Linked DNA regions of Homo sapiens: region 1 is linked to region 2. Evidence: fine-mapped expression QTL. A gene starts in region 2. The other region holds a variant in brackets. All regions are shown on one strand. Distances are from middle to middle.

What was found. PIP is the estimated chance that this variant, and not a neighbour inherited with it, causes the effect.
Region 1: its variant is fine-mapped to the expression of STAT4 in subcutaneous fat (GTEx, PIP above 0.99). The same link has a PIP of 0.9 or more in breast and sigmoid colon.

What each region holds. Positions count from the first base shown.
Region 1 is chr2:191,242,494-191,245,516 of GRCh38, forward strand. It overlaps MYO1B-AS1 (MYO1B antisense RNA 1), which reads right to left. Exons shown (of 4, transcript NR_186085.1): 2 at 1,127-1,580. It overlaps MYO1B (myosin IB), which reads left to right and starts at 2,911. Exons shown (of 31, transcript NM_001130158.3): 1 at 2,911-3,023. RefSeq lists an enhancer at 2,797-3,023 and a silencer at 2,832-3,023. The variant C/T (reference allele first, on the strand shown) is at 1,389.
Region 2 is chr2:191,149,967-191,152,726 of GRCh38, forward strand. It overlaps STAT4 (signal transducer and activator of transcription 4), which reads right to left and starts at 1,028. Exons shown (of 24, transcript NM_003151.4): 1 at 981-1,028. RefSeq lists a silencer at 668-717 and enhancers at 1,188-1,237, 1,368-1,447.

The DNA.
Region 1 (3,023 bases), 93 kb after region 2:
TCCACCTCCTGGGTTCAAGTGATTCTTCTGCCTCAGCCTCCTGAGTAGCTGGGACTACAGGAGCGTGCCACCACGCCTGGCTAATTTTTGTATTTTTAGTAGAGATGGGATTTCACCATATTGGCCAGGCTGGTCTCGAACTCCTGACGTCATGATCCGCCTGCCACAGCCTCCCAAAGTGCTGGGATTACAGGTGTGAGCCACTGCGCCCAGCCTATTATCTATTCTTGACAATTGTGGGAATAACTTTAATCTGCTTTTTATAATTTCAAAAGTTGTTGATTGATTGGTTTTTGAAAAAAATGGCCAGGAAGGTAAAAGTGTTTTAAAACCTGTATGTCCTCAGAAACTTGGGTTTTGAGATTTATGAAAACTAGGTAAACAGTATTTTTAAAAGAGAAGCATGATTTTTCTCTAGAAATATTTTTGGCTAATAACTTGGTTCATTTTCTTAGTGTTTATTAGGATAAGTTCTACAGTTTCTATTATTTTCTTTTTTGAACTTGCTAAAATCATGGAGAAAGTCTTAATTGTCCTCACTATGCGAGGTCCTTCTAGAGGCCGAACTGTTCTGACATAACTGTGTCCTATCCCTTTCTTGAGTCAGGAGTTTCAAAACTTTACTTCTAGTAGCTAGCTATTTTGATAGACCTACTCAGCACATAGTTGTCTCAAACCTACTTTTTCTAAAATCTGGCCACCTTCCAAGATCAAAAGTTTATAGAATTCCCCCACTCTTCAATTTGTATACATCTTATATTCATGAACCTGCCATCTGCATTTCTGCTATTTTTGAAAAGCTGAACTGGACAGTAGAGGTCAGAAGTTCCATGAACTGCCAAACTGCTATAAGCAGTCACTTGGGAACCTAAACTCAGACAAGCAAAATGGAGAAGTGAGTCTAACACACGTCACCAGGTAGCAGGTTCATATGTTGCCTATTGTGAAGGCTGGGATCTCCAGGGTTTTCATTATGCTAGGTTATCAAGGTCTGAGGTAGTGTGCTTGATAGTGAAGACTATAGAGTCAGACTATCTGGGTTCAAATTCCAGCTCTGTCACTGTTCTAGGTGTCTATTGCTATGTAACAACCACCCAGATGACAATCTTTTATTATTATCACTTACGTTTCCGGGGCCTGATTTGGCTCAGCTAGGTTTTCTCTCTAGGTCTCTCAGGCAGCGTGGTCAGTGACTGTGGCTGGAGTTCTTTCAAAAGCTCGCCAACTCACATGCTTGATATAAGTTGTACTGGCAGTAGACCAGGTCCTCAGCTGGCACCATCAGCCCAAACACCTACACATGGCCTTCCCTGTGGCTTGAGCTTCCTCACAATATGGCAGCTGGGTTCCAAGGGTGAGTGTCCCAAGGGAGAGCCAGGTGAAAACTT[C/T]ATCTCCTTTTATGACCTAGGTTTGGAAGTCACATAGCATCACATCTGCTGTATTCTATTTGTTACAATCAAATCACTAAGTCCAGACCATATTCAAAAGGAGGGCAATTAATATCCACTCTCTAATGGGAGTCTTCAAACCACCATAGCCATGTATTCCCTGAAGACCTCTCTGTCCTTGGCTTTGCTGGTCTGTAAAACAAGGATAATGAGAGAAACTTACCTCAGAGCTTTTTGTGAGGATTAAACAAAGAACAGTCCCTGGTACCCAGTATGTGTTAGTTTCGCCCATTATCACACCACTTGTACATCTGAAGTGATGCTGATGGTGACATCAATGATGAGACAGTTCCCAGCAGATATAGTCTGTGAAGGTCCCACCTTTCCAAACTCTACTAGTGGCATTTAACAAATCCCAGCGCCTGTGGTTCTTATGCCAGTGGGAACAGTTACTATATATGGTCTGAATTCTTTGGTTCACCTCACTTTAGTGACAGTTTCCAGATACAGGTCAGTCCATTTAAACCTGGCCCATTTATGGCAATTTATTTCATTATAGGATAAAGTAGTTAGAACCATGAGTAATAATTACTGTGTCTACAGTGCTTTTAACACCTCAGCCAAGTAATCCTCATCTCACCCAGTGAGTAAGTTTGAATGCGCACCCTTCCCTGTGCGAGGATGAAGAAACCAGGACCTGGGTCAAGAGGATTGTTCTAAATTCTCCAATGAGGCAATAGGGCTTGAGTGAGAAGGTGTGTGTGTGTGTGTAGGGGGGGTGTCCTGATTCTCTGGCCCCTACATGCCTGTATAATATACCCCATCACTGATCATTACTCAGGACCTGTTAATACACTCTATTCAAATACGTATGGGTATTTGAAATTTCTTTTAAACTACCTCTCATGTATTTATAACACAAAGAATTGGCCAGTGTCTATTTCCCACAATGTGAGATTAAGTAATTTAAAAGATACTAAAAGTCTTGTAAATGAAGACACACCACACCACTCAGTATAATTTTTTTCTTTTTCTGTGAAACTAATATTTTCTGATATTCTCGGCATCCAAAAATTTTCATCTTGGGGAGGAGGAAAAATTGAGACTTACTCCCACTGTTTGCCGGAATGTGACCCCAGGCTGGCTTCGAGTTGTCAAATGTTGTATTTCTCATTTTATGTCAGTGAGTCTGGAAGCAAAAAAGGTAGAAAGACTGCCTTCCGTGGGGGCCGCGACGATCGCCCCTCCTTCCCTCAAGCCTCGTCCCATCCAGGCTCGCCCCGGGTGCGGAGGGTCGGGCCGCAAACCCGCAAGGCGCGGAGGCCGCCGCGACGCTCACCGGGGGGCGCTGTGAAGCCGGCACCGGGCGGACAGAGGTGAGTCGGCTCGGAGGCGGTGGCTCCCGTTCCTGCCCGCGCGCCGAGGGGCGAATCCCAGGCAGCGAGGTCGCCGCCCCCGCCCCTCGGCCGGCCCCTCCGCCAGCGGGCGAGAGGGGAGTGGCCGGGCTCCTCCCGCCGCCGCTGAGCACTCCGCAGCTGGGTGCGCACGGGAGCCTCAACCGCGGCGCGTGGAGGCAGTACCAGAGCGCGCGGCGCGCAGTCGGCCGGCAGCCGCGGGACAGCCTTGGCAGAACAG
Region 2 (2,760 bases):
TATATTTTCAAAAAGCTAAGAGGATTTTGAATGTTCACAACACAAAGTAATGATAAATGTTTGAGGTGATGGATATGCTGAATATCCTTTGATCATAACACATTGTTCATATTTATTGAAATATCACTGTATATTCCATAAATATTTACAATTGTGTGTCAAATGAAAATAAAAGGAAAATTAAAAAAAATAAAAATAAACACCGAAAAAAATCACTACTAAGATCTGAGTCTTTCGGAGAGCTGAATTCAAAGCTGAAAAAAGGAAGAAGAAGGAATACATAGTCCTAGGACATTTTCTATTGCAGCCTCTGGGAACGCCTTTAGACATCCTTCAGCAGGTTTCTTTGCTTTCACTCTCTAGGGGCTACTTCTTTCTCATGAAAACTGTGACGTTGCTTCTGAAAACTCAGTGCCTGTCTGTCCTTTTTGCGTGCATTTCCTAGAAGATCCCACTAAAGGGGCATTTTGTCCCACCGTCTGTGAGCTGGTGGTGCCGCTTTGGCTCTGTGGCCTGTAGCTTGCAAAAGGAGATGACCTGCCCTAAAATGTCACTCGCGCCCATCAAAGCCACAGTCACCGGCTGCCGTAGCTGCAAGCTTTTTTCTGAAATCCAGGTACGCTAATCTAAAGTCAGACATCACAGCTCTAGAGAAGCTGGCTAAGAAAGTGAAGAGGGGCTCACTTTCAGCCTCCGCGAGGACACACCTCCGCAGCCGCCGCAGCTCCCCTGGCCCCCGCAGGGAGATTCGCCCGGGCACCGTGGCGCGGGCCTGCGGAGCGGTTTCCGCGGAGAACCCGTGCCAGGGCGCATCTGTGGGTCGTGGAGTCGGGCGCTTCCTTCTATAATAAGCCTCCTCAGGAAGGTTAAAATGAAGCAATTGTCAAAACGCCAAGGGAAAGCAAAGCTTCAGAGTATCCTGCATAATAAGCATGTCCTCCTTACAAGAGGCAGCCAGAAGGTGTGGTCTGGCCACTTACCTAGCGCTCTCTCAGCACAGGTCCCAGGCAGTGCTCAAGTCCAAAGTCAGAAGCGCCCCTCACAGTCCCTAGGAGAAAGCCGCTGACGCCATCATCAGTAGGGGATTTGCATTTCTCCTCCCACTTGAGGCTTTCCTGTGCGTCAGTGTTCGAGTCTCTGGGACTTTACTTGGGTCAGTTCCCACCCACTCTATTCTAGAAATGCTAACACGCAGAAACTGCCAGGCTGGAGCCCCTTCACCGGGCGTCCTCTTCCCTCTTATCCCTCCCAGCGGCTCTCGCAACTGCAGGTGGCTCAGCAGTGCCAGGAAAAAGGGGAGGGGCGGGGCATACATTTTCTTCAGTGGTTTCCTTAGACAATCTGAGATCCTCTGCAGAGTTACTTACCTGGAGCCCAGTTCTTCAGCTTCCTCTCTCCCTAGTATAAGGCTCCACTCAGCCTGGTGAACCACCCCTGGGATGGAAGGGATGGGTAGCCAGGATCAAAACACCAAACTCATAGACCTTACTGGGCTCCAATTCCAGCGGGGTCCGCTCACTCCGACGAGGGTGACCTGACCCAGAGGGTTGGGCCAAGTCCTGGGTAGGCCACCAGTGCTTGCCCTTCCTGACCTAGCCTCCTCCTACTCTCCTTGAGTAGCCTTGCCCCTGGTTGCTACGGTGCGTTCTTCTCCCTTTGTGACATCAGCCTGTTCTAGAATCACAGAGTTGGAGGAAGTCTTGGTCCCATCTAATGCTAAATCCTCTTTCATATCTGAAGAGACCCAGTGAGGTGACCAAGAGGACTCAATAAGTTAGCCACGGAGCCCGATAATAGCCCAGGTGTTTCCCTTCCCACTTCAGTGGTCTTTTCATTTCATCTCCTTGTAGTTAGCTCTTAACCCCTTGATTCACAGTAGGGGTTCAATAAAATAAAGAGAAGTCCAGGCGTGTGGCTCACACCTGTAATCCTAGCACTTTGGGAGGCTGAAGTGGAAGGACTCCTTGAGCCCAGGAGTTTGAGACCAGCCCAGGCAACACAGTAAAATCCCACCGTATATTAAAAAATCAATAAAAATGTTTAAGAAAGTAAAAATAGTAAAACAAAGACAAAAATAAAGACAGACAGACAGACTGAAAGAAAGGTAGAAAGTGTCACTCAATTTGGTTATACACATGCTTAGAGCAATATACCAAGGTGAAAGGCCTGCCTCCCTCTTCCCTGACGGGTTTCACACAGGTACACCCTCTGGATTCTTCTCTCCCAGGTGACATTATCATGTGCTTAAACTTACCACCCACCCCCAAATAGGTCAATCAATCCAAAGTCACACTTTCCATATCACTGTAAATTTCCTGGTTAGGTAGGCCTGGTCCCCACTGCTTGTTGAGCAGGCAGTTTCCAGGAGCTTATGCTGCTCTGACCCTACATAAGAAAGTGCCAATTTCAGGCTATTCCATAAGCTACTAAGCAAAGTCTGATTTTCTTCTGGAGAAGCTGTCACTGCCTATAGGAAAAAAATCCAAATTCTTGGCAGTTTAAGTTCTGTACAGTTTGGTCCCAACCTATCCAGGAAACTTTTCTCCCCTATAAGAGCCCATGATGTGACCCAAGCAGTCACCTCAGCTGCCCAGATTAACCTCATATTTCACTACCGAGGCTTTCTTCAACTGGATATTCCTCCCTGAGCCTACCTACTTAGTGAAATCCTATAGTTCTCAGTGAAGACTTCCCGATGACCTGAACCCACAGCAATGTTTCCCTGCTCCAAATTCTTCATACTTCCTGTCCAAACCAGCG